7 linked regions of the Homo sapiens genome follow. The protein of the gene in region 6 purifies or fractionates together with the protein of the main gene of each other region. This does not show direct contact. Each region holds a gene or a part of one and is shown on either strand. Other genes may lie near its edges.

Region 1 (3,339 bases), on a different chromosome or scaffold from region 6:
AAACATTTTTTTCTGTGCCCACTTTGAGGCTGTTTATGGAATGAAGTTCTGCATTGTATTCGTGCCTCCAGAGCTTGTCCTAGGTCAGGTATTCCTCTTCCCTCCCCTCTCCTAAGCCTCCCTGAGCCCCTTCCTGCCTTGGCTGAGGATTGCTACTTTCAAGTGAAGGACAAATAAGGGGAGGGCCACCTGTGTGTGTGTCTGATTTTCTGTTTGTTCTGGGCCTGCAACCTTGACAGGGGATGTGCTTGTCACTGAGGAGCTCTTTGGTCTTGGGCTAGCTGCAAAGGAGCAAGAGCCTGACATTCAAACTTTTGTTGTCTTAGTGATGATTTGACAGGAGTCATGAAACCTCTACTCTTCTTGTGGAGGGAAACCCAAGTTGAAATCGATCAGGTTTAGTCCTTTGTGTAAACTAAAAGGGTTATGGGTTTATAAGCCAGCCTGCCTTGCCTTTTCCTCCCACTCATTCTGCCCACAAACAACTCTGTTTTCCTGCTGAGTCACTTTAAGTTATAATCAGCCTGCTCTTTTTGCTTTCTTTAAATTTCCACAAAACACCTCCTGTGTATAAAACAAAATGGGAAAGAAGGAAGGGCATGTGTGAGCTTAAAAATTAACTTAAAATTACTAGAATTTGCCTTCAAATAAGTATGTGAGGTTAGCTTAATGACCAGGCATGATTATCCTTGAAAAATGTCTTTCCCCTTGCCCACCCCAAATCGACTTGACAAAGGACAGGGTAAGACTCCATGAGGGAGGTTCCATGTCCAGCCACAGTGGAGAAGAGTGGGCTGGCAGAGCCCAGGGAGTCAGTCCAGGACAACAGAGTCAAAGCCAGCCTGGCCCCTGCTGTCAAAATTTATCCACCCAGTCTGCCCCCTCCTTCCTGTCTGAGAGCCCTGCCATGTTGAGAGTTAAGAAGGGATGAAGTTCTGGATTCTGGGCTGCACCTTATCAAAGCCAATTGAGTCTGGTGTAAAAATATTCAGAAACTGTACCCGCTTCTTGAGTAGAGAGAGAGCCATATTCAGGAACAACAGAAGCCAGGGCCAGGATCCTAGTCCAGTGTTCTTCCCACCAGACCACTCACCTCCAGCCGTTTTTTCCTGTAAGGTTGAGATTTTAAAATGACGATATGTGTTCCCAGGATTCTGGAAGTGTATCCCACCCAGACAGTGTGGGGAAGCAGTAGTTAGATAATCCAAGATAAAACTGGCTTTGGGTCCTAGCGCATCTGGTGTCTGGCAGCATTCCTGCCCAGTGCATTAACTGAAACAGGAAGGTGGCGTGGCTTTCTGGGCACATACAGCAGGGAAGAAGCATGACTATACAGTAGAAAGAGCCCTGGACTTAGGGCCAGGCTGCCTTGGTTGTGAGTCCTGAATGCTGCCACTGTGGTGTAGCTGAGCAAGTTGTTCATCTCTAAGCCTCAGTTACCTCATCTGTACAGTGGGGGTGAGAACAGTCAGGGTCATAGGTTGTTAACAGTTAAGGATTGAATCAACATAATGTATGTGAAAGGGCTTAGTCCATGATTGGGTGCTTAATAAATGCCCGTGTTGCTGGGGTGAGCCAAAGGGATGAAGTTGGCAGTGCTTGCTCTGTCGTGGAGCAGTCCCCACGTGGGAAGGCCAGCGGGAAACCAGGCCTGCTGAAGTCTCCAGCGCTGGAAGCCTCACGGGGGTTAGGAAGGAGCCTTGGGAGCAGCTCCTCAGAGCACAGTTGTACCTCAATTGTGGATTTTAGATGTTTCTGCTTCTCAATGTTCTCTCTTTTTTCCTGCCTGCTTGCCTGCCTTTTGGACCTCTTGCTGTCTAGGGTGGCAGATGAAGCTTTCTACAAACAACCCTTCGCTGACGTGATTGGTTATGTGTATGTTGCAAAACTAATTCCTTTTTCTACATCTGATTCTTTCTACTTTTGTTTAGAGTTAATGCTCCTTTTATGTCACAAGTTGCTTTGCTTTTTAAATTATTTCAAATTGGCACTTTGGGGGCTGCCTAAGAATTGATAAGCGGGGTATGATCTGTTGATGAATCTTCCAGATTTGTGACTCCCTGCATCCTCTGATGGCCATTTTTCATATTTGGGGTTTTGGAGGGAAGAAAGCTAACTCGCTTTCAAAATGTGTCATTTGCGATCTTATCTGGGAACGGTTTGAGGCTCGGGGGAACTCTGCTCTCTTGCTCTTGGCTGCCATCACTGCTGCCATGCCCTGTTGCCTGCCTGCCTCAGGTGGGAAGGAGGTTTCCCCACCTGGGAGCAGGTGGCAGTCCCAGGAGGTTAGGAGCCAGTGAGCAGCAGCACCTTGCATTGCCAAAATCAGAGCTGTGGGGCAGCATTTTCCATACTTGGTTCATTCAAACAATGTGGGGTCGTTTGCCTCTCCCTCAGGCAGAAGAGTCCAGAGCAGAGGGGGTTGTCTCCAGTGGGTGTCTATAATTGTTCCTCTGTGGTCTTGCATGTCAGAAATTGCTATTTAGTGGTCAGCTTCTGATGTCCTGTCTCCTAGCACAGGGAAGCCCCCAGCTTTGAGATCAGGATAGTCAAAGTGTCTTGATACGGGCCACTTGGGCTTCTCCCCCTGACCCCCCCAAAAGAAACCTGCATCTTCTCTGGAGAAGGTGTTTTTCTTATTCTTTTTTTTTTCTTTTTTTCTTTTTTCTTTTTTTTAAGGATTTCTTTTATCAAAGCAGTATTGCTGAAGAGTTGGAAACAGTTCTCATTGTCTCCTCCTTAAAAATTAGGGCTGGCTTTACATGAGAAGTAAGGGTGGAATGGAAGAGGAGAGGAACCTGTGGAAGGTGGGCGATGAGCTCAGGTCTGTAGAGCCTCTCAGGGCCTATGACCTTGAGATGTTCATCCCCTTAGAAGATAGAACTGGGTTTCCTGGGCCCCCAGATGCATTTGCAGTGAGACTTGTGAAATGCTGGACTTACAGGTGGTGTTTGATTTGATTTCTGCACATTCTCTCTGGAGTAGAAATGGAGACTGGAAAGGTCGAGTCTGGTTTTGCTGGGCAGCTGGGTGGCCAGCAAAGCCAGCTGCACGTCCCCAAGCACAGATAGAGTGGCAAGGGCATGTCCAGCTTACTGACCATCTGCATTGAGCTCATTCTCATTTTCTATATCTGACTTAAAGTTTCTCTCGTTTCTTTTCTTCTCTTCACCTTTAAGCACAAACATAAACCATCCTTGCTACAGCCTAGAACAGTTAAGTAAACCTTTCTCACTGCCCCTAACTGTGTGTGCCATGAAGTCGCAGTGTTGTAGTGGCTCTGGGCTTCAGCGGTGTTTGCCACGGCCATCCCTGTGATAGTGCCACCCCTCCGTCCCC
Region 2 (4,520 bases), on a different chromosome or scaffold from region 6:
CCAAACTGGGTTCCCTGTGAGGAGAGGAAAAAGGTGGCTATTTTCCTTGAGTTCAAAGCCCTTTCCTTCCCTTGACCCCCACCCTCATCAGGGAGGGCCCAGCAGATTAGATGGCTGCTGTGTACCAGGCACAGTGCTAATAAGCTCAACAACGGATTATTCCGTTAATCCTAAAGACAGCCCTATGAGAAACACTGTTGTTATTCCCATTGCACAGAGGAGAAAATAGAGGTCTGCAGCTTAGCTGGAGACAGAAACCTAACTAGTGACCCCCAGAATTCCAGCCCAGGTCCAGCCAACACCACTGCCCACCTCTGCACAGAGCTGCCTTTCTGCCTTCCTCCTCCTTTCCTAACTCATGGCACACGGCACAGTGTGCCTCACTTCACAACAGCGCACTCCCCCCACCACCCTACACTAAGCATTTCCCCCCACCTCCCTACACAGTGCACCTCCCCTCCCCCACCTCCCTACACAGCACACTCCCCCACCACTCTACAGAGCACACTCCCCCCACGACCCTACACAGAGCACTCCCCCCACCTCCCTACACGGCGCACATGGCGCACCTCCTCCCACCACGCTACACAGCACACTCTCCCCCTACCATCCTACAAAGCGCACCTCCCCTAACCACGCTACACAGTGCACTCCCCCCACCACCCTACACATCGCACTCCCCCCACCTCCCTACACAGCACACTCCCCCACCTCCCTACATAGCACTTCCCCCACTCCCTATACAGCGCACCTCCCCCCACCTCCCTACACAGCGCACCTCACCCCACCATGCATCTCACAAGACAGCACACCTCCCCCACCTCCCCACAGGGCGCACCTCCCCTGCAACACAGGGCACCCCACAGCCCAGCAGCCGGGCGCACTCACCCAGCAGCCTAACGTTTGGGTGAATTGGAGGGTGGGAGAGGGCGAGTGGGAATCTGAAGTGTGCTTCTCAGAAGCACTGTTTTATGGCGGGAACGGGTGCGGGCCCACAGGGGTAAAAGGTCACACAGCCAAGTCAGACTGAGCCAAGCCCAAGAACTCGGGGGTCCCCATTCCAGCCAGAGTGCGCTACCACCCATGTGCAAGAAAATGCAGGAGAGCCCTCCAGACCCCCTTCTCCCAGGTCGGTGGGAGAGGAAAGAAACTCACCTCCCAAGAAGACTGTGACTCGGAAGTCAGGCAGCCCCGGGAGGAAGCCTCCCCTGGGTGACCCTGCTCAAGTCCCCTAACCTCTCTAAGCCTTGGTGCCCTCATCTCTAAGGTGGGGTGATAACATCCCCCTCACAGGGCTTCAGTGAGACATACGTCAGATTTGACACCAAAAGCCCAGTGCACGATGCATGGCACACCTCAAGCCCTCAGTGACTGGCCACTCCTCTCCCCCTACCCCAACCAGACTGCTGACATCGACGCTGCCTGGGAACTTCCCGCCCACAAGCCAGAGGCCAGCCCAGCACTTATTTCTGGGTTGGCTTTGGGAAAATAAGAACCAGTTGTCACTACAGCTGCCCTGAGTGAACCGGTGACACATTCTCCCAGCTTCATGGTGGCCCAGATGCAGGAATAATGACAGCTCCCCTGCCCTGCAGTTTCTAGAGTGAGAGGCCATCTATGACCACCCCACATGGGTTTTGGGGAGAGCAGGAGACTGCTAGCTGGTCCTGCGTGAACCAGCACTTCCAACGGCTGCTGCCCACCCAGAGGACCACTTCACCACGTCTCAGTGGCATGGCATGTCCCAGCCCCTGTGCCCCAGGATCACTCTCCTGCCGTCAGGTCCTTCCAGGGACAGCCCCCCGGGACATCGGCTCCGAATCACACTGCCTTTTTTCTTGCCCTCCCTATTCAAGCTGGATGTCCCATCAGCTCGGCTCAGCTCAGCAGGGTGGCATGGAGAGAAAGGGCACCCCAAGGCAGGACCCATAACAAAGCCCCACTCCATACCCCACCAGGCCAGGGTACGAGTCCCATTTTACAGGCTCAGGGGAAGGTACCTGGCCAGAGTCCCACCACTAGACAGTGGCAGAGCCAGTAGTGAAATCAGATCTTTTGATCCGAATCGACTGTTCTTTTCTGAATGCTCTGACGGAGCCTGAAGGCCAGCATCGCTGGTCACCCAGACCTTTCTTCTCGTCTCCCCAAAATCCAATCTATGAACAAGTCCTGCCAGCTGTGCCTCCAAAGTAAATCACAAAGCTGTTTTCTCTCTCTATCCTCTGCCACCATCCTCAGGCTGCGGCCTGCAGGCTGAGCCTTCTACCAGGTCTTCCCGCTTGCCGAGTCAATGCCCTCCAGCCAATCCCACTTAGCCAGATCCCAGGCCAGCTCTCTATCATGGCCGCTGAGGCCGAGGCCTGTGGCCTGTAGCCCTCTCGTCCCTCATTCCAGCCGCAGTGCCGCCTCACTGGCCTTCCCTACAGATCACTCCAGGCCCTTTCCTACCTTAGGGGTCTGCACCGGCCACTGGCCTCACTGAAACGCTCTTCCCCCTGTCTCCTGAGGGCTGGGGCCTCTGCACCCTGAACATCTCTGGACAAGCGCTGCCACCTCCCAGCCCTCGCCCATCTGTTGCAGCCCCTCTCCAGCTCACTGTTCTGTTTCTTTCTCCTGACCGCTACTGCCACCTCAACTGATCTTCCTTTCCTTGTTTGCTAACCATTTCCCTGCCATGCTCACCCCGCTCTGGCCTCTAGACCGTGAGCGCGATGATGGGGATCACATGGGCTTCATCTGCTCCATGTCCAGCACCCAGCACAGAGCCCCCACTGAACTCCGCCAGGGCCCCAGCCTGACAACCTCACACTCTCCAGCCTCATGATCCTCGCACCCTCCTCCCTCCTGAGAGATCTTCTCAGGCCCGGCTTGGACATTTCCCAGTCAGACTGGATCTGAAAACCAGGCCTGAGAGGGGCCGCGACCACTCCCTCCCCTCTGCCTCTTGTCCCTGTTCCTAGCAGCCCTCCAAAGGCATCGTCCACCACTGGCAAGAGCTCGCTGGAATGTGTCCTCAGTGATTAATCCTTAGGACACCCCACCAGTCCAGGGCTGAGACAAAGGTTCAGGCAGCTTATCTCACCGGGCCAGCTCTCTAGGAGGGAGGCAAGCGCCCTTTTCAGAAGGAAGGAAATTAGCTCAGGACAAATTCTGCTGTGGAGGGAGCCTGCTGCAGGCTAGGGCTGCCTCTGGGGCCTGGACATACTTGGTTCTCCTGCTCCACTCCTCATGCTGGAGGCGAGGGGAAGCGTCGGGAGGCCGAGCGTGCCACCTCCTCGCAGAGCCCTAGCCCCAAACTTACCGTCCACTTCCTGGTTTCAGAAGCTTCCGTTTTGCCTGACTCGCGATCGATCTCTTCTTGCAAGGCCTTTCGCCTCACCTGAGCAAGAAGGATGACAGAAGAGGGCCGTCAGACAGAGATCTTCTTTCAAGCTTAAAACCCAGGACAGAGACGGGGCTGGGGGAACGGAACGTGGGAGGAACTAACACAGCTTGACTCTGCTACAAACAATGGGAAGCTGCTATCATAAGTATTCTCTTAGCATCTCAAGGGCTGCGCCCCTTGGCCTACACTGGGCAGGCTCATTTATCCTCTTTAGCCTCTTAAGAATGAATTTTCCTAGAAACTGAGGCTTAAGAGCTTGCAGTGAGCCAAGATCACGCCACGGCACTCCAGCCTGGGGGACAGAGTGAGACTCCGTCTCAAAAAAAAAAAAAAAAAAAAAAAATCCCCAAGGCCAGAAAGTCCACTTCCCACAGGGATGCATTTGCCACGGGATATGGGAACGACAGAAGCGGAAGCTGATTCACAACAAAACTTCTCCTCTAAATGCTCCTGAATTAGCCCAGGGGGTGGCAGCATGTGTCACCTGCCCAGCTGCAGGGTCTTAGGGACATGTCCCCCACATCCTGCAGCAAGTAACAGGGAATGGCCAGTCGGGCCTCTCGGCCATGGCCACGGCAGCCGGAAGGGCCCCCAGCATGAGGATGGGGAAAGCACGCATTCCCGGCCCGGGAGGTGTGCGTTGGCAGCTGGCCCAGTGGCCTCTGGAGTCCCTGGTGCCCCTGAGACCAGGATCACCTAGCCAGCCTGGCAGGCAGCAAGTGAGACTCCAAGGGTGGCAGGAGGCAGCGGGAGGGGCCTGAGGAGGGTCTGGGCTGTACCTGGTCTATGTGCGCCTCATCCATGTTGCCTTTTTTTTCCAACACCACCTCTAAGTCCGTGTCTGTTTCCTGCAGGAGAGGGCAGAGCTGGCTAAGGTTCAAGTTTACAATGAATGGCCTCTGCCTCTGCACCCAGCCAGGGTGAGACCATGACAAAGTCCAGAAAAGACCTCAGACCACGGCATCACCCCCAGCCCTGCCACCTAGAAACATCTCAGTCAGCAAAGCCCTTCCCATCCCTTCTCTTCCACAATTCTCCCGCAAAACAGTAGTACTAAACTATTTGACGGATGAAGAAACTGAGACTCAGACAGGTAAAGTGACTACAAGGTTACCCCACGGCTCAGGGACTGGTG
Region 3 (4,520 bases), on a different chromosome or scaffold from region 6:
TATAAATCATGATACTAAAGAACTGGAAAAGATGACAAATCGGCAAGGCATGCTATTGAAGAAGAAAGAAGAGTGTATGAAGAAAATTCGAGAACTTGGATCACTTCCCCAGGAAGCATTTGAAAAGTACCAGACACTGAGCCTCAAACAGGTTGGTTTTAAATTTGAAGTCTTGTTACAAATTGCTCAGTATATAAATTTATTTATATGAATACATATTTTCTCTTTATAGTTGTTTCGAAAACTTGAGCAGTGCAACACAGAATTAAAGAAGTACAGCCATGTTAACAAAAAGGCTTTGGATCAGTTTGTAAATTTCTCCGAGCAGAAAGAAAAGTTAATAAAGCGTCAAGAAGAGTTAGATAGGGGTTACAAATCAATCATGGAACTGATGAATGTACTTGAACTTCGGAAATATGAAGCTATTCAGTTAACTTTCAAACAGGTATGTTTCGCTTTGTAGTTAAAACATACACACAGAGGACAAAAGCTTCCAGCTCTTTTCAGTTTGTAAAGATTTTAAAGCTGTTTTCCTCATTACCAGGTGAATCTAATACATGTGAACAAACCTAGCATATAGGTTTACAGTAACTTGAATGTTTTACACAGCCCTTAGAAGGATCTAGTCTGTTATCCTTGTTCTTAAGATTAAAAAATAATTGGTTGCTTTTAAATATTTTACTTAAGTGTTATATATAATTCTAAGCAAAATTTATATTTCAATCTGCTTTTGTTTTAAGGTATCTAAGAACTTCAGTGAAGTATTCCAGAAGTTAGTACCTGGTGGCAAAGCTACTTTGGTGATGAAGAAAGGAGATGTGGAGGGCAGTCAGTCTCAAGATGAAGGAGAAGGGAGTGGTGAGAGTGAGAGGGGTTCTGGCTCACAAAGCAGTGTCCCATCAGTTGACCAGTTTACTGGAGTTGGAATTAGGGTAAAATACCTTTATATTCCATTTTCCTCAGAGCATTACCATAATAGAATTTATAGTATCTTTTGCAAATCTGATTGGTGCATTATATGCAAGTTACTTTTGAAAGATGGTGGTGATTCTGCCCTTTAGGATATTAACTCATAATATGTTTATTTTTAGGTGTCATTTACAGGAAAACAAGGTGAAATGAGAGAAATGCAACAGCTTTCAGGTGGACAGAAATCCTTGGTAGCCCTTGCTCTGATTTTTGCCATTCAGAAATGTGACCCGGCTCCATTTTACTTGTTTGATGAAATTGACCAGGCTCTGGATGCTCAGCACAGAAAGGCTGTGTCAGGTACAGTTTCAGTACAGTTTTGGTTTTGTATTTAACAATAAGCTGGTAATATTTGCTGATGTATATATGAAAAAATCAAACTCAGGCAGTTTTGAATTTTAGTAAGAGTAAAGATAGTTGCTTTTTAAATTTTCAGATCTGCTGAAAAGAAATTTGTTAAAGCACAATTTTCTTTTTACAGATATGATTATGGAACTTGCTGTACATGCTCAGTTTATTACAACTACTTTTAGGCCTGAACTGCTTGAGTCAGCTGACAAATTCTATGGTGTAAAGTTCAGAAATAAGGTAATTTTATTTTACATTGAGTTTAAGTTTGTATTTATTCAATTATATTTGTTGAATTCTGATTTTATGTTACTTAAATAGTGAAAGAAAACTTAGAAAGTCTTTGCTTATCTGATGTCTTTGTAAAGAAAGAACTTTTCCTTCAAATAACTATGAAGTTTAGCAGTATTTTATGGCGTTGCATTGGTTTTATTTTCATTGGCATTAATAAACAATATCTTTCTGTCCAGTCTATTCAATGCTTCTGTAATGCACAGTCTTTAACAATTATATATGTTCATTTGTATAGACTGCATAGCTCTTCCTGGGTGTCTTCCCAACCTTAAAATTCTTGATGAAATAGCAAAGTAATAGAAAGTGAACAAAAAGGTAGTTTAGATGTTTAGGCATGATATTTATTTCTTCAGAGCATTAAAATACATATTTTTTAAATCTATGCATTGAACAAACACCACTGTAAATAAAGGTTTTATAAGTCAGTGCTTCAGAATTATTTTCCTTCATATGTAAAATATAGGTGATAGGCCGGGCGCAATGGCTCATGCCTGTAATCCCAGCACTTTGGGAGGCCAAGGCAGGTAGATAACCAGGTCAGGAGTTTGAGACCAACGTGGCCAGTATGGTGAAACCCCCGTCTCTACTAAAAATACAAAAATTAGCTGGGCATGCTGGCGTGCACCTGTCGTCCCAGCTACTTGGGAGTCTGAGGCAGAATAATTGCTTGAACCTGGGAGGCGGAGGTAGCAGTGAGCCAAGATGGTGCCACTGCACTCCAGCCTGGGCAACAGAGCAAGACTCCATCTCAAAAAAAAAAAAAAAAAAAAAAACTAAAAATTAAAAAATGTAGTTAAATGTAGTTGATAGGCTGTATATATTTACCCTATACAATGTAAACACTGATGTAATTAACAGATTTTTGTTTTTAACATTTATTCTTCAGGTTAGTCATATTGATGTGATCACAGCAGAGATGGCCAAAGACTTTGTAGAAGATGATACCACACATGGTTAATTGGAAAATACTACCTACTGGTTTGGGAGATGTATATAGTAATATGATTCTCATACCCAGGAACTGTAAATTTAAACCTAAATATTTGGCCAATAGTTTTCAGACTTAAAGCATCATAGTCCTTTTATATTTGTCTTTGTATTTTATAAGATACTCTGTAATGTCATGTTTGTACTGATAGTTTAAGAATTTAATTTCCTGTACAACTTTTTGTAAAATGTTCTGCTCCTATTTTAAATGTTTTGAAACATGCTAAATATTCTTTCCTAATTATTTTATCACTTATACTACCTTTTTTATAGCTTCAATTAAATAATCGGTTTTATGACTAATATAGTGTTTTATGTGGCTTTTCATTTGTCATAGTCTCTTCCAGTGAGAACACTAATCAGATTGGATGTAAGGCCTCATTTTAACTTAATCACCTCTTTAAAAGACCTGTCTCCAAATACAGTTAAATTTGAGGTATTGAGGGTTAGGACTTCAACATGTGAGTTTGGGAAGGGAAGCACAAAATCAGCCCCTACCATGGTATATTTATCATTGATACATTACTATCAACTAAGCTCAAGATTTTATTCAGATTTGACTAGTTTTTCCACTAAGGCCCTTTTTCTTTTCTAGGATCCCACAGAGGATACATTACATTTACTTACATCTCCTCTAGTCTGTGACAATTTCTCTGTCATTGTTTATCATATCTTGACAATTTTGAATAATATTCACATATTTTGTAGAATGTCCCTCAAATTAGGTTTGTCTAATATTTTTCTCATGGTTAGATTGGAGCTAATACCACAGAAGCGAAGTATTCTCATTACCTCATATAATAGTACATATTATTAACATGTTTTATCACTGATGTTTACCTTGATCACCTACCCAACATTGTACTTGCCAGGTTTCTTTGTTGTGAAGTTACATTTTTTTCCCTTTCCATACTACTCTTTTCTTTGAAAGTAGGTCTTTAAGCACTGGGGGTCTCCTGTGACCCTGGAAAACTACCTCAATAGTCCTCGTAGCTTTTTGTAGATTCTTTGAGATTTTCTACATAGACAGTCATGTCATTTGCAAGAAAGAGGCAGTTTTATTTCTTCCTTTTCAAATATTTACCTTTAATTTCTTTTTCTTGATTTCCCCTGGCCTGAGTTTATACTGGTTATCTGCAGGAGAATTTGTTAGGAGCTACTCTTCCATCATTGGAAACCAGAAATACCTAAAGAGATACTTTTAAAATAAAGAAATAGTAATGGGACTTTAAATTGAATTTAAAAATGTGAGTTTACTTTGGGTTTTCATTTTGACTGGCTGAATCTTTAAATGTTCGGTGTATTATTTATACTTTGTAGCTTTGCTATAACATAACTGATCTATAATAGAGAATTTGGTATATGTTCTATCTATGACTACATTCAAAGGGTTACGTAACTATAATATCTTTCTAATATTTCTACCATTTTTCTTACACATTTACCCAAGAATTTTTCTCAAACAACTACCTAAGAATATTCATCATGAATGCTTGGTGTATAGTTTACGATTTGTAGAGTTGCTCTGATATGACCAACCCCTTATAATACAGAATTTGGTGTAAGGTAAGTTCCAGGATTCAATTCAAGGGATGTTACAAACATAACATCATTCTAGAACTTCTTAATATTGTTCTTAAGCATTTCCCCAAGGATATTAGTATAATGAAATGCCAGTAAATTTATAACAATAAAGCATCTAAATAATGAAACAAAATTTTTGTAAAAGCCTATATTCTTTGCGATATCTTAGTCATGAATTAATTCTAATGAGACTGAATAGAAAAATGTGACAATCCTGAGCATGCTTAACCCAGAAACTTAGAGGAAGGACAGACATTTACCCAAGGAGTTAGCCAGTGATTCATAAGAAAATCTATGCTTCTCTTTGGCTGGATAGTCCTTTCCTCAGAGTAGTACTG
Region 4 (4,520 bases), on a different chromosome or scaffold from region 6:
CCTTTTCCCCTAAAAATCAAAGCTGTGTAGTTTTGTGTCTTAAATAAAAAAAAAGAGGACTAGAAACAAGTTAAAATCTGTATTTCGAAATTCTCTAATGCAAAAGTAACCTTTGGGAAACTTCCTAAGCAATAAGCACAATGACACTCATACAAACCAAATTTCTCTAAATTATTTCACAAGGACCATACAATAAATTCAGCAACATCAATGATATCAACACATTAACACCACTGGATATGTGTAATTGTAAGAGAACAGCAATAATTAGAAGTCACACCACTTCCTAGAACAGCAGTTCTAAAACTACAGTCCACAAACCAGCTGCAGTAGCATCAGCTGGGAGTCTGTTAGAAATGCAGCTTCTCTGATTCCATCCCACACTTGCTGAATCAGAAACTCTAGGGATAGTGCCTAGCAAACTGTCTTTTCATAAGCCCTCTAGAATTCTGATGCATGCTAAAGTTTAAGACTACAGCCCTTAATTACCAAAATACACTTGTACTCAAATAAATCCTGGAGGTAAATGAAAGTAACATCAAAAATGAAGTGCTCCCCATGAGAATATTGTGCAAATAACTGCTGAGGTTATCATATCAGATTACAATACTGTATTTAACGCATTTGTATGGACATCTTACCCCTAAGTAAAAAAGCATTACCTATTTTTACCAGTGAGGTGGAAACTAAAATAAAATAATAAAATTACTATCATTTATGGATCAACTACTAAGCACTGTGCTAGGCACTTTACAAACATATATAAAATGTTTATTCAAATTCTATTATTAGTTCATGAACATAAAATGAATTCTGTTCAACTGAATTATCACATCTACCACATTTGGTGTATCTAATTTTAAAGTACTGTTTAAAAATTACTACTTTTTTTTTCCATTTTAGTTTACTTATGTATGGCTTAGATTTTAATTACATATGGAGTTCTACATGGTTCAACTTTAAGAAATACAGGATCATAAGGATTTTGGCAAGTTAATGAAAAAGAAGCAAAACATGAGCACAAAAGCCTTCAATGTGATAATAAAAATAAACATATTTAGCTTGCCATGACTGGTACAGATATGCAAACTCTGGGTCCAAATCAAGGCTCTAAACTTCCTATCTGAATAAGTACTTTATTTAATCTCCGGTGAGTCCTGTTATTCTCATGGGTAAAATGAAATAGTGTAATACCTACCTTACAGCGTTCTATATAAACAAGGCACTCAGCACAATGCCCATAACATAATATACACTCAATAAATGTTAGGTAAGTAGCAGTAATAATAATAGTACCCACTATGCGGGTAGGAATACAGAGAAAGCAGTGATTTTACGAAATGAAGAAGACAATCTCCAAATTCACTAACTACAATGCCATCTCCATCATCTTTTCCAATTTTTCACCAATAAATTCTGCTTTATTTTTATGATCTCTAAGGACTTCTAAAATCACAAATTGACTCTACTAACTCCAGCAGCTAGACCCTTTCACAAGCTGCTTCCTTTCCCTCTTGTCCATAGCTCCATAAGGACAACGATTTGCCCTATTTTTGTTCACTGCTATATCCCCCATACTTATAAAAGTGCCTGCCACATATCAAACACGCAAGAAAAAGTTGTTGATGTATGCATGTGTGAATGAATGAATGAATAAATAAATAAATGGCATATTTCTAACCACAAACAAAACAAGGAAAACAAACTGCAAAAGAACACAAGGCGATGGTATATAAGAAACAACTAACGAGACAAACTGTATCCTCCAAGGGCTTAGCCACCATGTTAGATGTGGCACATCTGTGATATAATCCCAGGCTACATTAAATAGCCTACAACAGGAGGTGCCACAACAGTCCAGAGCCCCTCCAACATCAACACCTAACTATATTTGACACCTGGATTGAAAGAGGATTGGCAGTGGTGCAAACTGACTAAAAAGAATATTATTTTCCTTTCTTAATAAATTCTTATACTTTCATTCATCCTTACAAATAGAACTGCACAAATTCTCAAATGTTTTTAAAGGAATGTTTATAAATTTTAAAAAAACTTTTTTTAAGGTCTGTATGGTGACTGTTTAAGAAACCAAATTTTTTGTCATCAGGGAGTTTGGCAGTAGGACTCTGAACAAATTCTCATTTCCTATCAACAACTTAGCTGTACAATCTAATAAGCCTCAGTTTCCTCAGTTTTAAAATTTGAAGGTTGAACTACTATATAATCTTATGGTCCTTTGCATATAAACATTCTAAAAAGTCTATACCTTAAACATATTATTCCTCATTCCATAAAAAATCTTGAAAAAGGTGGTGGCAGGGGATAAATAAAACAGAGGGGCATTATATTATCTCCCAGCTTGATACTGTTATAATTTCTACTCGATGGGCACATATACTTCTACTGTAATCCTGAGATTTCTCACTACAGTACTCAACAAAAACTACACACTGGAATTCATAAATTTATTCAGTATATAATTACTAGGTGAAAGGGACTACTCTGGTTACTGAGAATGAAGTAGTGAGCAAGAGACACAGTCCCTACTTTCATGAGCCATGATTACAAATAACAGATGCATTATTTTTAAAAAGTTAGGTAGGTATCTATGACACTGCATGGGTGGGACTGATATTTAACTTGAGCTCTACAGGACATTAACTGAGCAACATGGGGAAGGAGAAAGTGTCTTAGGCAGAGGAAACATCAGTTGGGTCCAGAAGCACCAAGAAAGGATTTCCTTCAGTTAGATTCCTGTGACACTTAGAAGGGTCTCTGAGGCATGAAATCACCTCTGCAAAGAATTTTACTTGCTTTCAGATTCTCTTGGAGGACAGAGTTTCAATGGTATACTGACTGAGGTTCAGTTTTGACCAGTGCCCAAAGATGAGAAGCTTCTAAGTTGTACCATTTCCCATTTAAAAGCAATAGATTTGAAACTTCAAAATTGTACCATTCTCCATTTCCCCAACCCTCCCCTCCAAAATATTGCATGGCAATTATTTTCTTCTAAGTTTCCTCTTTCAATGGTTCCTGTAAATTCTTTACTGAGCCAAAACCACTTTGCAAAGAAAAACTGCTTATGTTTTCAGAAACCCCCAATTACTTTCAAAGCTTCCTCTCTGGCCCCTTGGTTTTATACCGCATGGAGCTATACTATTCAACAGCCATCTGCAAAAGGTAGATGAGCTGTCAACCAATTTTTCTCTTTTTGAACCAAATAAGACAGCCCTGCCATCTGGGCCTCTCTGAAAACTACTGCCCAGATAGTGGAGCTATAAAATCAGAAGCCATGTTGTTTTGGGAACACTTCACTAAGGAGAGAAGACCCAGGCTCTCACTGACCAAGGGAAGGCAGGACTTTATATGTAAAGGCAGGAGATAAAATAAGTCTCTCATTATTAACTTGGGTTTCCAAAGATTTAAGAATTATCTCAAAACAAAACTAAACATGCCAAGTATCTTAGAGAATACATTCCTTTTTTATTTATTGGCATTTCCCACTTAATATTTTAGATCTCCTGCTCTAATATATTCTACATTAAGTCCCTGATTTAAGTTTCATTTAAATTTCTTTCTTTTAAATACATATCTCTCCTCATTTAAATTCTCTAGAGTTTCAAGCAAAGAAGTAGGAGTTTAGTGTAAACTTTTCTTGTTTGCATTAAGTAATTGGATAGCTTGCCTAAGCTTAATGAAACAAATACCAGTCAGTGCTGCCCTTAGACCTCAAGCCCTAGCAACTTAGCTCTTTCCTCAGTATATTGTCAATCAGGCGAGGGACTTAAGGTACACCAGCAAAATGAATTCCTAAAAGCCAGCCAAATCTCCTATAATAAATATTATTACATGTCCTTTTAAATGGGAAAACAAATTAACTACTTATAAAACATTCAACTTTCATGGACAGCAGGTATAAAATCTAGTTCTCTATATTTTAGTCCCAGGGTAAAAACTAGCCAGTTTGACTTTACTCTAAAGAACCTCAAGTTTTTAAGAAAGTAGAAAGAGAATTTTAAAGATAACTTTAGCAAGGCATTAACATATTGAACTTCATTCACCTCCATAAGGGAGGCATTACTAGCTCTAGTTTTTTTGTTTTTTGTTTTTTTGAAACATGGTCTTGCTCTCTTGCCCAGGCTGGAGTGCAGTGGCATGATCTCGGCTCACTGCAACCTCTGCCTCCCAGGCTCAAGCAATCCTCTTGCCTTAGCCTCCCAAGCAGTTGGGACCACAGTTGCATGCCACCAAGCCTGGCTGATTTTTGGGTTGTTTTTTTTTTTGTGGAGACGAGGTTTCAGCATGTTGTCCACATGGTCTTGAACTGGGCTCAAGTGGTCTTGAACTGGGCTCAAGTGATCTGTCCACCTCAGCCTCCCAAAGTGCTGAGATTACAAGCACAAGTCACCACACCAGCTACTATCTCCATTTTTAACATGAGAAAAACTGAGAAGTACAACAGAGGTGTGAAAGATGGTGATCTGACTTCCAAAGTCATACTTCTTAAACATCTTAAAGAG
Region 5 (4,520 bases), on a different chromosome or scaffold from region 6:
TGGAAATTGGGCAGTGGTTTATGGGATTTCATTCAATTTAAAAATAACCTTCAGATGTGATTTATGCCTCCTTATATGGACATATAAGCCTATATAAGTCTAAAAGCAGAAAGGGAGTTTTCTTTTACACTTTACACCCTCTTTGAATTTTTCAGTGATAATCTTTTACTTTAAATTTTAAAATTATTTAAATGTTTAAAAATATTGTTTAAATAAATAACATTCATTGTTGCCAGGTCTCCGGCAAGAATATGCAGCCACCACGTCTCGGCGCAGTTCTGGTTCATCTTGCAATTCTACAAGACGGGGTACTTTTAGTGATCAGGAACTTGATGCACAAAGTTTAGATGATGAAGATGACAATATGCATCATGCAGTATACCCTGCTGTTAACAGGTTTTCACCATCACCACGCAATTCACCTCGACCGTCACCTAAGCAGTCACCCAGAAATTCACCTCGTTCACGATCTCCTGCTCGGGGAATAGAATATAGTAGAGTGTCCCCACAGCCTATGATTAGCCGCTTACAGCAACCTCGCCTTTCACTTCAAGGCCATCCCACAGATTTACAGACAAGCAATGTTAAAAATGAAGGTAAAATAGCAGATTTTACTAATAATTAGACAGTTTCTGCTAGCCTGTGTAACATAGCAAGACCCCGTCTCTAGGAAAAAAATTTTCAAAATTAGCTGGGCATGGTGGTGCACATCTATAGTCCTAGTGACTTGAGAGGCTGAGGCTGGAGGATTGGTTGAGCCCAGGAGTTCAAAGCTACAGTGAGCTGTGATCACACCATTACACTCCAGTCTGGGCAACAGAGCAGGATCCTGTTTTCAAAAAAAAAAAAAAAAAAAAAGTTTCTAGATTAAAAAAAGAGAAAAAGTGTCCTTTATATTTCACTATGAAAGTAATACAATTTTTGCTAAGTTTTTGTATTTCAGATAAGTAAATCAAGAGTGTAGTCAGGTTTACTATTTTATTAATAGTGAATCATTACAAAAATAAAAGAGAAAGTGAATTTCATTTTACTTGGTTATGTTGTTTTTGCTTTATTGTTTTATGAAGTTACCTGTATTTAGATTTTGCTTTAAATATAAAATTTGTGGTTATCTTTAAGTGTTCTCTTATTCTACCCACTTAACAGATCCTAGATCGAGTTGTTTGTTTTTTTTAATAAGACAAGTCCTTTGTATTTTCTCATCTAAAATAAACAGAATGTTTGATAAACAATTTGATTTTTGAATGCTAGTTAATATTTTAATTTTCTCCATCTGAAAGAATATGATTTTTTTAAAATTAAAATTCTGTTGCAGAAAAACTAAGACGCAGTCTTCCAAACCTGTCCCGAACATCTAATACACAAGTTGACTCAGTGAAAAGCAGCAGAAGTGACTCAAATTTTCAAGTGCCAAACGGAGGAATACCTCGTATGCAACCTCAGGCTTCAGCCAGTAAGTATCCTTCTTATGCTTTCATGTATCAGTTATTTAAAGAGAAGTGAAAATTTTAGATATTTGTTTTATGCTGAAAAACCGTTTTTTATGCTGAAAAACCGTTTTAAACCATAGCTATAGTAAAATTTAGTGTTTATTAGTTGCTGGATGATAATCAAAGTTATATTACAATTTAAAATTTTCTATGTAGGATACTTGATTCTGCCAGTACATCTGTCTATACAAAACTCTGGTCTCTCCAGAATTTTAAAATAAGCAAAATGTAACTATTAAAAAAGTAGGTGTAGCTTTTGCTTATAGATACTAGAATTAGAAATAAAAACCAGTAGAGCATCCAAAAATATATGTCCCTTAGTACGTAAATTTTCTTTAATAACCTCCACTTTAAAAATACCTAAAAGTTTGATTATTACATAATTTTAGAATCATACTCAAAATAATCCATTGTTCAAACCTGCAATATATTAAATCTGTTATCAAAGTTGAATTGTTGAAGTTCTTTTCTTTCCAAAACAAAAGTATACCAGGAGAACTCTTGGATGATCTCATTTTATTTCTGCATCTGTTGAGATAAGATTTCTGGTTTTGATTTGATTTTCTGTGTTTGTTAAGGCTATTTTAATGAAAAAATACAATATTGAATCAATATGTATGCCAAATTAATTCATAGTCCTAATCCTACTTATAGATTAAAATTTGAGATAAATTGCCAGAAACCATCACTTTTTAAGAATTGATCAGGACTTGTCTCTTTAAATTATCTTTCAGAAAACAAATTCTTAGAGTTAAAGCTAAACTCTTAAACAGAGAAGGTGAATTTTAGAAGTATAGTAGAAAGAACACATGTAGATTATAATTTTTAATAAGTTTTGGTCATTGGGTGGTTACTAACCCATGAATGTGACAGTATTTGTATTCAACTATTATTTGTAATAGATACTTGAGTTTTTATTTTGTGGCAAGTAGTATGTTAAATCAATACAGGCATTTCTACTATAGCACAAAATATGCACTCCTTAAAAACCTCACATTCTGCAGTATTACACAATAAAAATGATAGGATGATGAGGAGTGGAGGGAATAGTCCTGGAACAGACCACTGAAAACCCAAGCAACTTTCTTAGAAAGCATTAATAAAAACAATAATGATACTAGCACAGTTAAATTCATGTTAAATCTTTATTAAATACTCCAGGAGATATAGAACTTCATTTTTAAAGAAAGATTTGAAGGTAATGTGATGGAAAGGAAAGGTTGAGACTGTTGAATTAAGGAAACATATGCAGCATAGACGAAGATCAGAGAGAATCATACAGTAAGATCATCTAGGACAAAATAGCCAAACTGAGCCAAGAAGTAGTGATGTTGGAGTAAATGGGCATTGTGTATATTAATGTACAAGTTGATTTTAAAGGAATTTCAAAAAATTACTTTTTAGCTAGGATAGATTTGAGCGTGTAGTCAAAACGGTTTTAAATAAATGATTACAGTTATTTTTATGATCTTATGAACGCTCAGTATTCATCCCATGTGTTTCACAGCTCACATCAGTCCCGTATATGAGCTCTGAGACACAAAGGGTGCATATTCACTGGGGTCCTTGTAGGGACACAAGGGATGCTTATTCACTCAGATCCTTGTAGGTACACAATGGATGCATATTGTCTCAGATCCTTGTGGCATATTACTATCAGTGGTTGAAGTGGTAGCTGTGTTATATTCTTTCATTTTCTCAAGGCTATGAAGAAGTGATACAAACGAGTTTGTTGACTGTTCACTTATAACTTGTTTATTAAGCAGTTAAAAATTTGAAGATATTTAACCCTTTTTTCATTTTCATCTTTTTTTTTCTTTTTTTTTTGATTGAGTCAGGGTTTCACTCTGTCACCAGGCTGGAGTGCAGTGGCACAATCATGGCTCACTGCGGCCTCACCTTCCTGGGCTCAAGTGATCCTCCTGCGTAGCTGGGACCACAGGCGTGCACCACCATGCCCAGCTAATTTAATTTCTTCACACTTTTCCTTGGCCCTGTTGTGTTTAGCTGACTTCATATACTTCATGTTAAGCTGTTGTTACTTAGTGGCTCAAAAATCAACAGGCTAGCAGGAGTTTGAGACCAGCCTGAGCAACACAAGACCTCGTCTCTAAAAAAATGTTTTTTTTTTTTTAATTACCCAGGCATGATGGTCACATGCCTATAGTCCCAGCTACTTAAGAGGCTGAGGTGGGAGGATTGCTTGAGCCCAGGAGTTTGAAGCTGCTGTGAGCCATGATCATGCTGCTGCACTCCAGTCTATTGAAAGAAAAAAAAAAAAAAAAAAAGCTACGAAAAAACTATATTTGAATCAAAATGACTTCTGTGATATATTGACAAATTTTCCTTATTTACAAGGTGCATATGATATTACTTATATAACAAATTTATATTATACTGTATTTAGATGCATAATCTTATTTAATCCTTAGAACAATTCTATGAAGGAGGTACGATTATTACCACATTTTACAGATTAGAAATTGAAGCTTTGAATGGCCAAATAACCTATCTCTGATTATACAGCTTATAAGCGGCAAGTTAGAATTTAAACCCATGTTGATTCATCTTGAGCACTGGATCTCAATAGGTGAGAGTCCAAATTCACCTAGTGAGAGTTGTCACATCTATGGTTTAGACCATGATATAAAACTTATCCAGAAATATAATTTCCATTTTTCCTAAGATTTAAAATTCTAACGTTTAAAGCACTGTAGAAAATTGGTACCCAGAGATTTGTAAACCACATTTATTCAGCTAGATATATGCTAAAACCTGTTTTTATAGCAAATTACATTTTAAACTTAGTACTCCAAGTCTTATTGTGAACTCTGTAACTGAGAGTGCCATTATAATACTCACTGTAGTACTAATAAATAGTATAGAAAACAGGAATTCACAAAACACTTGAAAGGAAGGATAGAATTTGAGCTTTATCTTTGAAATCGTGAGTGATACAGATTAATTTGACACTTGAGAATATCCTGTTTCTGGCTTCTTTTTTCCCCTGACACATTTGGCTGATGCAAA
Region 6 (4,520 bases):
GCAGTCCCAGCTCTCCTCCCCACCTTCCTGCAGATCTCTTACCCGCAGGGATCCTGGTACCAGTTTCTTTACTAGTGAAGGATCTTGATTGCCAAAGACAGTAAAGGGCTCCAGTTAAGTGAAAAAAGAGTGACGTCTTGGCAGGTTGGGGGTAGCTCATTGGCCCAGCTTGTGCAGGGATGAAGGGGGCGACGTGCAGCTGGGCCTGTGGGGCTGCCCCGGGTGTGGGCTCCACTGCTCTGCTGACAACACCCTCTAGTGTCTCTTGTAGGCGGTGAGGTCTGTCCTCAAGAGCCAGGGTCCTGGCTGGGTCTTAGCTGAGCTGCCAGAGGGTGGGACGAGAGGATATCTGCCTCCTTTCTATTTTCAAGATAGATGGGGCCAGATTTTCGGTTATATTGGGATCTCCTCCTCTCCCCAGTCCCAGCAGCTGTTCAGCACGGGGCAGCCAATACCCACTCATGGTGTATGACTGAGAAATTTTCCAGGACTCACTTGGCCCCTCCACATTTGTGGCGGAAGGAGGGTCTAAACTCCAGGTTCCTGGGGCCTCTGCCAGGGAGCCACCTACATCCTTGAACTCTTCTGGGTGAAGGTCGCAGCAGGAACCCAAGGCTGGAGACCCTGAGCTGAGGCGGGCTGCCCTCTTGAACCCTACAGAGGCTGGTCTCCTGCATGGTGGAGTGGGTGGGGCAGACCCGGCAGGGGAGCCAGCTGTCTGCCAGCAGGCCTTCCGTGCCTCCCCTGGGCTGTGCCTCCTGCTAACCTGGACTTGCCAGCCTTGGCTGCGTTGCTGCTCAGAGGCACCAGTGCTTCCTCGTGCTATAGGCCTCCTCTCCCCCACTGCTCTTCCAAGGGGGGGCACGGTTCCCACCTGTGCTTTTCCTCCAGACCCTGCCTCTGCCCCGTTGGGCTCTCCCCTGACCTCACCAGATGGTCTTTCTGTACAACACAAGTTCTCAAGCACCCCCTGCTTGTTGGGACATAATTGGCATCTCCAAAGGTTGTTCTCTCCCTCTGGGCTGTCGGCTCTGAGGGCAGGGCCAGGGTTTGGAGCACAGCGTATCCTCGGGAAATGCGCTGAGTCTGTGTGTGGCCAGGTCAGAGCCCCAGGGGGGCCCTGAATCCAGAGGGCCCCAGATTGATGTTTCTAGAGACATGAACTCCTGAAACCTTCTCTCCAAACTTGGGTGGAGCACAGCCCTGCTCTCCAGGTATGGGCTGGGCACAGCCTGCCCCACCTCTGTGTCCCTGTCCTCCCACTGGCTTCAGTCAGGTGTCCTCAGCCCTTCCTGAGACTCCAGCCACTGTTTATAACCTGGGAAGGTACCAGACCCTGCAGAGGGTTTGAATTCACTCTGGGTCTCCTGTAGGAGTCGCTGACCCCATACGTTTTGTTTGCTTCTCCCGCTGAGCGCAACTAGCTCCCTGGCTCAGGAGAAGTGCTGTGTCTTTCTGGATCCCATATGTGATTTCCTCATCTCTGCAATGGGCTGCCCCTCACCTTCTGCCAGTTATAAGGTGGTGAGGTTTAAACGATATTGCCCATTGGCCCATCCCTGGCTCCGGGACCCTCCACAGACGGGGATGGTGCTGCCTGTGAGGCCCTCCGGCCCTCACGTTGCCCTGTTGTAAAGGAGGCGGGGCGCCCTGCCTGGTGGGCACAGCCCTGTTGGCCAGATGCAAACCCCGGCAGTAAACCCCTAGAGACCCTGTCCCACCCTGGCTAGCTTGAAATGCCTTGGGTATCAGCCACGTTTGTACCACAGGGGTCGATTTGTCTCTCTTCCACAGCTTTTTTGCCTGTGAACTAAAGATTGCCCATGCTCGAGAAGAGGTCTCCTTGGAGCACTCCTTGGAAGCTGCCCCTCTTCCCAGGGTCCCTTTGTGATGGTGATGGCCCCTAGGTGGGTCCACTCTCCCATAGAGCTCTGTGCCCTGGGGCACCTTCATGTAACCCCTTCACTCTCAGGGGCATGTGAAAATTTAAATAAGAAAACCAAGGGAAAGCATGTGGAGAGAGCACCCAACAACTATTAGCTATCCCCCGCCAACCTCTATTTTTGTCTTCCCCAAACAAATATATATATATGTATATATATATATTTGAGACAGAATCTCATACTCTTGTCACCCAGGCTGGAGTGTAATGGCGCGATCTCATCTCATTGCAACCTCCACCTCCGGGTTCAAGTGATTCTCCTACCTCAGTCTCTAAAGTAGCTGGGATTACAGGCGTCCACCACCACACCCAGCTAATTTTTGTATTTTTAGTAGAGACTGAGTTTCACCGTGTTGGCCAGGCTGGTCTCGAACTCCTGACCTCATGATCCGCCCTCCTCAGCCTCCCAAAGTGCTGGGATTACAGGCGTGAGCCACCCGGCCCGCTATATTTTACTTATAACCAGTGGGGTTGAATGGAAACCCATCTCTGAAACTTGGCCAAGTGTGATGCTGCCTGATGTTGCTGGCCGAAGTTCCTGCTCTAGGTAGAAAGTGAGTTTTTGGCCGGGCACGGTGGCTCACACCTGTAATCCCAGCACTTTGGGAGGCCATTTGAGCCCAGGAGTTCCAGACCAGCCTGGGCAACATAGGGAGACCCCGTCTCTACAAAAATGTTTTTAAAAAAATTAACGTGGCATGGTGCACACACCTGTAGTCCCAGCTGCTTGGGAGGTTGAGGCAGGAGGATCATGGGAGCCCAGTACAGGCACCCGCCACCACACCCGGCTAATTTTTGTATTTTTAGTAGAGATGGGGTTTCACCATGTTGGCTAGGCTGGTCTCGATCTCTTGACCTTGTGATCTGCCCACCTCGGCCTCCCAAAGTGCTGGGATTACAGGCTTGAGCCACTGCACCCAGCCTAGAAAGTGTGTTTTTACAGAGGCATGCTGACTATGAGAACATCCTCCTCAGAGCATAGTGGGTGTGGCTGGTGGGAGAAGCTGGGTCAAGTGGTACAGTCTGCCTCTGTGTGAGGACTCAAGCTTGTGAGAAGACCTGGAAGCGACTCACAGGGTGGCACATCCACAGAGCAGCACTAGGAGGGAGGGAACTGCTGCCATACACATCAGGCCGGATGGGCCTCCAGGGAACCAGGCCCAGTGGCAGAAGCCAGACCTACGGTGTGATCCCAAATGCGAACCTACAGTGACAGAAAGCACACAAGTGGCTGCCTGGGGACAGGTGAGCGTGGGCGGAAGCCAGAGGGCAGATGAGGAAGGACAGAGGCAGTGGAGATTTGCTGCTGACTGTGCACCGGTCGAAACCCTCAGGTTGTGCTTCCAGTGTGTGAGTTTATTGTGCGTCAGTTACACCTCGATCAAGCCAGGCCCACCTCGGCCAGAAGGCAGCCATCTCTCTGCAGGCCTGGCTCAAGGTCTGTTGCCCAGGTCCTTCTCTGAGAGCTCAAACAAGCCCCTTGCTTCCTGTATCCACTCTCTGTGTGCCCAGTGGTTAGGCCTTCCTCGGCTGAGTGCTCAGCTCAAACTAAAACTGTCATCAGTGCTGTGTCCTTGCTGGCTGGTGCCGCCAGGGCCTAGGGCCTGGGAACTGTCAGCCTGGGGTGACTGGTCATCTGAGACCCCCACAACCCAAGAGTCACCTCTTCTCGGGTGCTGGGATCCCAGGAGCCACCCACACCGACTGCCAGGCAGGACCAGGCTGCTGGCCCTACGCCAGCCTCCCTGCCCCGCTTGGCTGTGTAGCATAAGCCAGTCCTCCCTCTCAGCACCCCCAGGCCAGCGCCCTCACTCCAGGACCCTCAGGAACCTGCCTGCGGGGGCTGTGACCCCTGCCGTGGGGAGGTGCACATGGGGAGAGCGATATGGGACGGCGAGAGAGAAGGGACTTAGGGCAGGATTCGGGCCCAGTGAGAGGGGCTTGAGGAAGCTGGACTTTGCTTGGATGGATGCCCTCAGGAGGTGCGGGGGCAGCTCTAGGGTCAGGGGTCTTTCTTTAGCAGAAGGAGGAAGGAAGCCAGGCCAGAGCTGGACAGCCAGGCAGCTGGGACACTCAGGCAGCTGGTGCAGGGCATTGATGGGGCTTCTGTGGTCAGGGCAATGCACGTTTGTCTGTGCTCAGACATGAGTCCGGAGAGTCTTGTTCTTCTGATTCATCGTGAGGTGGAAGTTGTGGGCCCCGGGGGTCGAGTTATGTGACACGGGTACGTTTAGCAGGAGAATCAGGGCCTGCCGGATGGCAGATACACAGAGTGTGTTTCCACTGTATCCACAGACATGTGCCAAGCCCTCCAAGCCCCAGATTTGATTCTCCAGAGGAGGCCTGAGCAGGTCTTTAGGGAAAGCCTGGGTGTAATTCTGATGTGCGCGGGCTAAGAGCCCTGTGTGGATTCCTGACGCACTGGGTCCAGTCAAGGCGACCCTGAGGGCCTTTCCCAGCCTTGCCCCTGCCGGACACCTGGCCCCAAAGCCGGCTGCACCCTCCAGAAGCAGGCTACCCTTCCCCTCCCAGGAATCTGGCCTTTCCGGACACTGCTCAGTGCCTGAGCTGAATCTGA
Region 7 (4,520 bases), on a different chromosome or scaffold from region 6:
TTTTTTTGGTTTGAGATGGAGTCTCCCTCTGTCACTCGTGCTGGAGTGCAGTGGCACAATCCTGCTCATTGCAGCCTTGACCTCCTGGGCCCAAGCACTTCTCCCACCTCAGCCTCCCAAGTAGCTGGGACTGCGGGCATGTGCTCCCACGCCTGGCTAATTTTATTTATTTATTTATTTTCTGGTTGATGGGAGGTCTCACTATGTTGCCTAGGCCGGTCTCAAACTCCTGGGCTTATGGAATCCTTGTGCCTTGGCCTCCCAGAATGTTGGGATTACAGACATGAACCGCCACACCAGGCCACTTGATTTCTTACTAATTATAGACCAGAATCGAGAGTCACTGAGACATAGAAGAACCTTTATTATATGTGTCAGCCTTCCTTGGTATGTACTGCTGAGCCCACCACACACACCCTTCCAGCCATTCCACATTCTAACCTTTCTCAGATGCCTTCGGCCTTGTGAAAGCCCCTTTCCTTCTACGTGCGTTTTCCTCTGCCTGAAGTGCTGTGTTCGTTTCTCCGAGTCTCTCTCCTTGTTTATTCCTGCTTGTTCCTTTACTGCTGACTTCAGATGTTCCTCCTTGCTAAGCTTTTCGTTGGTTCTTGGCTGGAGTGGGCTGTTCTGTATTCTCAGCACCTTGTTCACATCCCTTTTGGGTCATGCTATTCTGAAATTGTATATGTGTCTGTTTTTCTTTTTTTCTTTGTGTATCTAGCTCAGTTCTCTTAGTTGTTCAGTAAATACTCAGTGAATGAACATAAATGAATACCCTGTAAATTTTGGTCTCTAAGCTTTAAAAGAAGTGTATTAACTTCAGTCCGTTGATGGCGTATTGATAGGTCAGCCATTCTGGGTTGTAGGTCTTGGCATATTTTATAAAATAGTAGATGATGTGAGCTTATGGTTATTTGCATTAAAGGCCAGTGTTTTTCTTGATACATATGTTTAAGTGTCCATTCACCTTTCAGTTACCTTTTAAAGTAGTCCTCGGTTTATAACCAACTGGAAATTATACCACTTGAATTCTTTTTATCAGGACATGATTCTAAGTGGTACTGTGCGAAGTGAACAAACCAGATTTTGGAAAAGTGGTTCAGCAGTCTGTGTATTCTAATTATAGGGAGCATTAGGACTCAAATTCTCCAGGTTTTTAGAAAAGATTTTTGTACTTTAAGGGTATATTGTTAATATCTGTTGAGATGCCTCACCTGAGAACCTTTCTCTGCTGTGGTTAGGGAGTGTTAATCAGAATCACTTGTGCCGTGCCCTACGCGAGAAGGACTCCTTGAGTTCTTTGAAAACATGTTTGGAATAGAATTATAGCCCTGTTTTCCTGAGTGGAACCAGTTGTGATTTTCCTTTGAAATAATTTGAATATATAAAAGATTGACATTCTTCTCACATATATAATGTTGGGAATGTAAGGTATATTCAAAAGTAAACATTTGTGGCCAATTTTTTTGGCTCAGATTACTATGACATGGAATCCATGGTCCATGCAGACACAAGATCATTTATTCTGAAGAAGCCAAAGCTGTCTGAGGAAGTAGTAGTGGCACCAAACCAAGAGTCGGGGATGAAGACTGCAGATTCCCTTCGGGTACTTTCAGGACACCTTATGCAGACACGGTAGATGGTTTCTTTTTCTTGTGTAGTTAATTTGTGTGATTAGATAGTAAAGGTTAACCATTCGTTTGCAGCTTCCCTCCTCCCCGCCCTAACCGCTAGCGTAGAGTGCTTTCATTGATTCAGTAGCTAGCCCATGAATAGTTAGCCAAATTCAGTTTTCAAGAATTCCAGTTCATCTTTCTTGTTCAGAAATCCATTAACCTACAAATTACAACTCAGTGTATGATTTAACTCTATTAAAGATTCTTTTCTTTATGCAAATTCAGGAAATGCAAGTTTAAAAGCCAGCTGACCATAATCAGGTCAGCTCTAAAGAGAGTTGGCAGATCAGGTTTGGGTGATTTTTCCCTTAGAAAATTGACTGTTTCTATAAAAGAAGAAACATACAGATAATTAGCATAAATGCTGCTGGCCCTTGTGTTCTGAGCATTGATGCTAATTTTTTGGTTTGTTTCCATGTTGACCCTATGAAGATCGAATGGGTGATGGGGTCAGGCTTGAGGGGAGATTGTCCTTAGTAAGTACAGGCTGGAGGGTCACTGGTGATGCCACTGTGACTGTTCATGGCCATCGTGTGTTAGCAGAGAACCCACCAGTGCTGCACCTGGTAGCCCTACCTAGTCTTTTTTTATTGAACCAAACGCAAAGCCAAGGGAGTGATAGTTCTGCTGAAGAGCACTTTAGGGGGCTCAGCGTTTTGTGTTTGTTTCCCTAATTCTATGGTATTTTTTATCTGTCTGGCAGAGATCTTGTACAACCAGATAAACCTGCAAGTCCCAAGTTTATAGTGACGCTGGATGGTGTCCCCAGCCCCCCAGGATACATGTCAGATCAAGAGGAGGACATGTGCTTTGAAGGAATGAAACCCGTAAACCAAACTGCAGCCTCAAACAAGGGACTCAGAGGTCTCCTCCACCCACAGCAGTTGCACTTGCTGAGCAGGCAGCTTGAGGACCCAAATGGTAGCTTTTCTAACGGTGTGTTGAGAGCTCAGATTTTCAGGGTGCTGTCATTGTGAAGGGAATCTTTGACTTGTTTCTCTACCTTGAATGAATATTGGTTAAAGGCCTTGCTTTTATTTATATTCAGTAATGGCCTTTTTTCTTCTTTCAGACAAACCCACCAAGTACATTTCAGACTCTTTTTCCTGTGTCTTTTTCATAGGTGGGCTGTTACTCCAGTTTGAAAACGGAGTTCAGCCATGGAACCTGAGAGACCTCTTCCGCTTATGCTGGCTAAAGGATGAACCACCATTCTTGTTGCCTTCTTTACCTTTGTATTTTCTTCAGAAACTGTACTGCCACTTTGCCCTTTTATCAGCAATAGTCTCTTGCAATTAACTTGAGAGAAAAATTTAGATTTGATGCTATTTCTACCTCAGTGAAATTTCTTTGAAAGGAGTTTCTCACCTAATCTATCAAGATCTTGGAACTGTTTAAATTAATGTTGAAGAGTAATATTTAGCAGAACTCAGATGAACTCATTTCAGATAGCACCATAGTTTTTGGCAGGTGACAGTTTCTTATCACCGTTTCTTTCACTGGGTATCAGTGGTAGCTGCAACGCCACTGATCATTTCCATTCATGATAGAGAATGGTAATTATGTTCCTTATATCTTCTAAAATATTTAGAAGCACCTCTTCATTGGCAGGAGGGATAATTACTCAATCTTAAAAGCGTACAGATTCAAAGGAAAAACAGTAATGGATTTTGAAACATTTCCTTGAGTAATCCTCTTCTTGGAAGAGATATGAAAATGTATTGAATACCTTTCTCGATCATTAAAAATAGAATAGACTTCAGAGGGAAATCATATGTTAGTGGAGCAATAACACTTAGCTTTATTTTAATTGGTTGCGTTTCCTACTGTGAATCAATGACGTAGTGTCGTGGTTTTGATTAGTGGAGGGAGTTGAAAATCTGACCCTATCAACAGGAAGAAAAACTTAAAAAATAGTAAAAGCTGCAGTAGGCAGTCCCGATTTATTGACTCTGTATGTTTTGTCTAAAGAGAAGACTCCAGTGTTTTCACTACTCTTGATTTTCAATTTGGTACCTTAATTTTTTGGTCTATTAGGATCTGGTTTCATTTAAATGTAGGTGTCCATATGAGGCTTTATGGGGTATACATGTAGCAGCAGTGACACCATAAATAATATGTTAGTAAAAATTCTTGCCAGTGCTGTGGCCATTGTGCTGACAGCCATGATGAGTGGTGAGCCTCCTTTCCCATTGCTTTGACTGGGGACTCAGTGTTTCCCTGCTGCTCAAGGATGAAGCTTTGTAAGATTAGCATAGGGGTGTGGCTGGAGAGACTCCTGCAGAACAGTTCTCAGGAGTCTCTAGTCTCTGCACCACTTCCCCTGTGAGCAGGGAGTTTGAAACTGCAATTGCTTCTGGTTGGTTTTATGTTGGGTTGTTTCAAGGATGCTACCAACAACAACATCTGTTTTAACCTGCTGTCTTTTCACTCACTGTCATATGGCAGCACAGATTTTATAGCTTGCTTTCTTTGTTTTTTTTTTTTTTGAGATAGAGTCTCTCTGTCCCCCAGGCTGGAGTGCAATGGAGCCATCTCAGCTCACTGCAACTTCTGCCTTCCAGGTTGAAAGCCATTCTTCTGCCTCAGTCTCCCAAGTAGCTGGGATTACAGGCATGCACCATCACACCTGGCTAATTTTGTAGTTTAAGTAGAGACGGGGTTTTACCATGTTGGTCAGGCTAATCTCCAACTCCTGACCTCAAGTGATCCACCAACCTCGGCCTCCCAAAGTTCTGGGATTACAGGTGTGAGCCACCGTGCCTGGCCTATAGCTTTCAATAAAAGGTGAATTTGCCTCTTAAAATTTGAACAGAAAGTTTTAATAGTTTACAAAGTCGGTGT

Evidence for each region.
Region 1: the proteins of ARHGEF4 (region 6) and CLTA purify together in Homo sapiens (affinity purification with mass spectrometry, with the first as the bait; one large-scale study listed by BioGRID). This does not show direct contact.
Region 2: the proteins of ARHGEF4 (region 6) and KNOP1 purify together in Homo sapiens (affinity purification with mass spectrometry; one large-scale study listed by BioGRID and IntAct). This does not show direct contact.
Region 3: the proteins of ARHGEF4 (region 6) and SMC3 purify together in Homo sapiens (affinity purification with mass spectrometry, with the first as the bait; one large-scale study listed by BioGRID). This does not show direct contact.
Region 4: the proteins of ARHGEF4 (region 6) and CHCHD3 purify together in Homo sapiens (affinity purification with mass spectrometry, with the first as the bait; one large-scale study listed by BioGRID). This does not show direct contact.
Region 5: the proteins of ARHGEF4 (region 6) and SLAIN2 purify together in Homo sapiens (affinity purification with mass spectrometry; one large-scale study listed by BioGRID and IntAct). This does not show direct contact.
Region 7: the proteins of ARHGEF4 (region 6) and ZC3H14 purify together in Homo sapiens (affinity purification with mass spectrometry, with the first as the bait; one large-scale study listed by BioGRID). This does not show direct contact.

Annotation. Positions count from the first base shown.
Region 1 is NC_000009.12:36,207,446-36,210,784, forward strand, and holds part of CLTA (clathrin light chain A), read left to right. Parts: exon of another isoform or gene 1-1,109; intron 1,110-1,821; coding exon of another isoform or gene 1,822-1,875; intron 1,876-3,179; coding exon of another isoform or gene 3,180-3,215; intron 3,216-3,339. UniProt on the Homo sapiens protein: Clathrin is the major protein of the polyhedral coat of coated pits and vesicles.
Region 2 is NC_000016.10:19,707,208-19,711,727, forward strand, and holds part of KNOP1 (lysine-rich nucleolar protein 1), read right to left. Parts: intron 4,234-4,520; coding exon 4,165-4,233; intron 3,380-4,164; coding exon 3,302-3,379; intron 15-3,301; coding exon 1-14.
Region 3 is NC_000010.11:110,601,734-110,606,253, forward strand, and holds the end of SMC3 (structural maintenance of chromosomes protein 3), read left to right. Parts: coding exon 1-151; intron 152-232; coding exon 233-445; intron 446-740; coding exon 741-932; intron 933-1,091; coding exon 1,092-1,269; intron 1,270-1,450; coding exon 1,451-1,557; intron 1,558-2,497; coding exon 2,498-2,569; 3' UTR 2,570-4,315; downstream 4,316-4,520. UniProt on the Homo sapiens protein: Central component of cohesin, a complex required for chromosome cohesion during the cell cycle. The cohesin complex may form a large proteinaceous ring within which sister chromatids can be trapped.
Region 4 is NC_000007.14:132,976,892-132,981,411, forward strand, and holds part of CHCHD3 (MICOS complex subunit MIC19), read right to left. Parts: intron 1-4,520. UniProt on the Homo sapiens protein: Component of the MICOS complex, a large protein complex of the mitochondrial inner membrane that plays crucial roles in the maintenance of crista junctions, inner membrane architecture, and formation of contact sites to the outer membrane.
Region 5 is NC_000004.12:48,382,332-48,386,851, forward strand, and holds part of SLAIN2 (SLAIN motif-containing protein 2), read left to right. Parts: intron 1-236; coding exon 237-596; intron 597-1,315; coding exon 1,316-1,453; intron 1,454-4,520.
Region 6 is NC_000002.12:130,842,732-130,847,251, forward strand, and holds part of ARHGEF4 (rho guanine nucleotide exchange factor 4), read left to right. Parts: intron 1-4,520. UniProt on the Homo sapiens protein: Acts as a guanine nucleotide exchange factor (GEF) for RHOA, RAC1 and CDC42 GTPases. Binding of APC may activate RAC1 GEF activity. The APC-ARHGEF4 complex seems to be involved in cell migration as well as in E-cadherin-mediated cell-cell adhesion.
Region 7 is NC_000014.9:88,600,449-88,604,968, forward strand, and holds part of ZC3H14 (zinc finger CCCH domain-containing protein 14), read left to right. Parts: intron 1-1,475; coding exon 1,476-1,635; intron 1,636-2,379; coding exon 2,380-2,612; intron 2,613-4,520. UniProt on the Homo sapiens protein: RNA-binding protein involved in the biogenesis of circular RNAs (circRNAs), which are produced by back-splicing circularization of pre-mRNAs.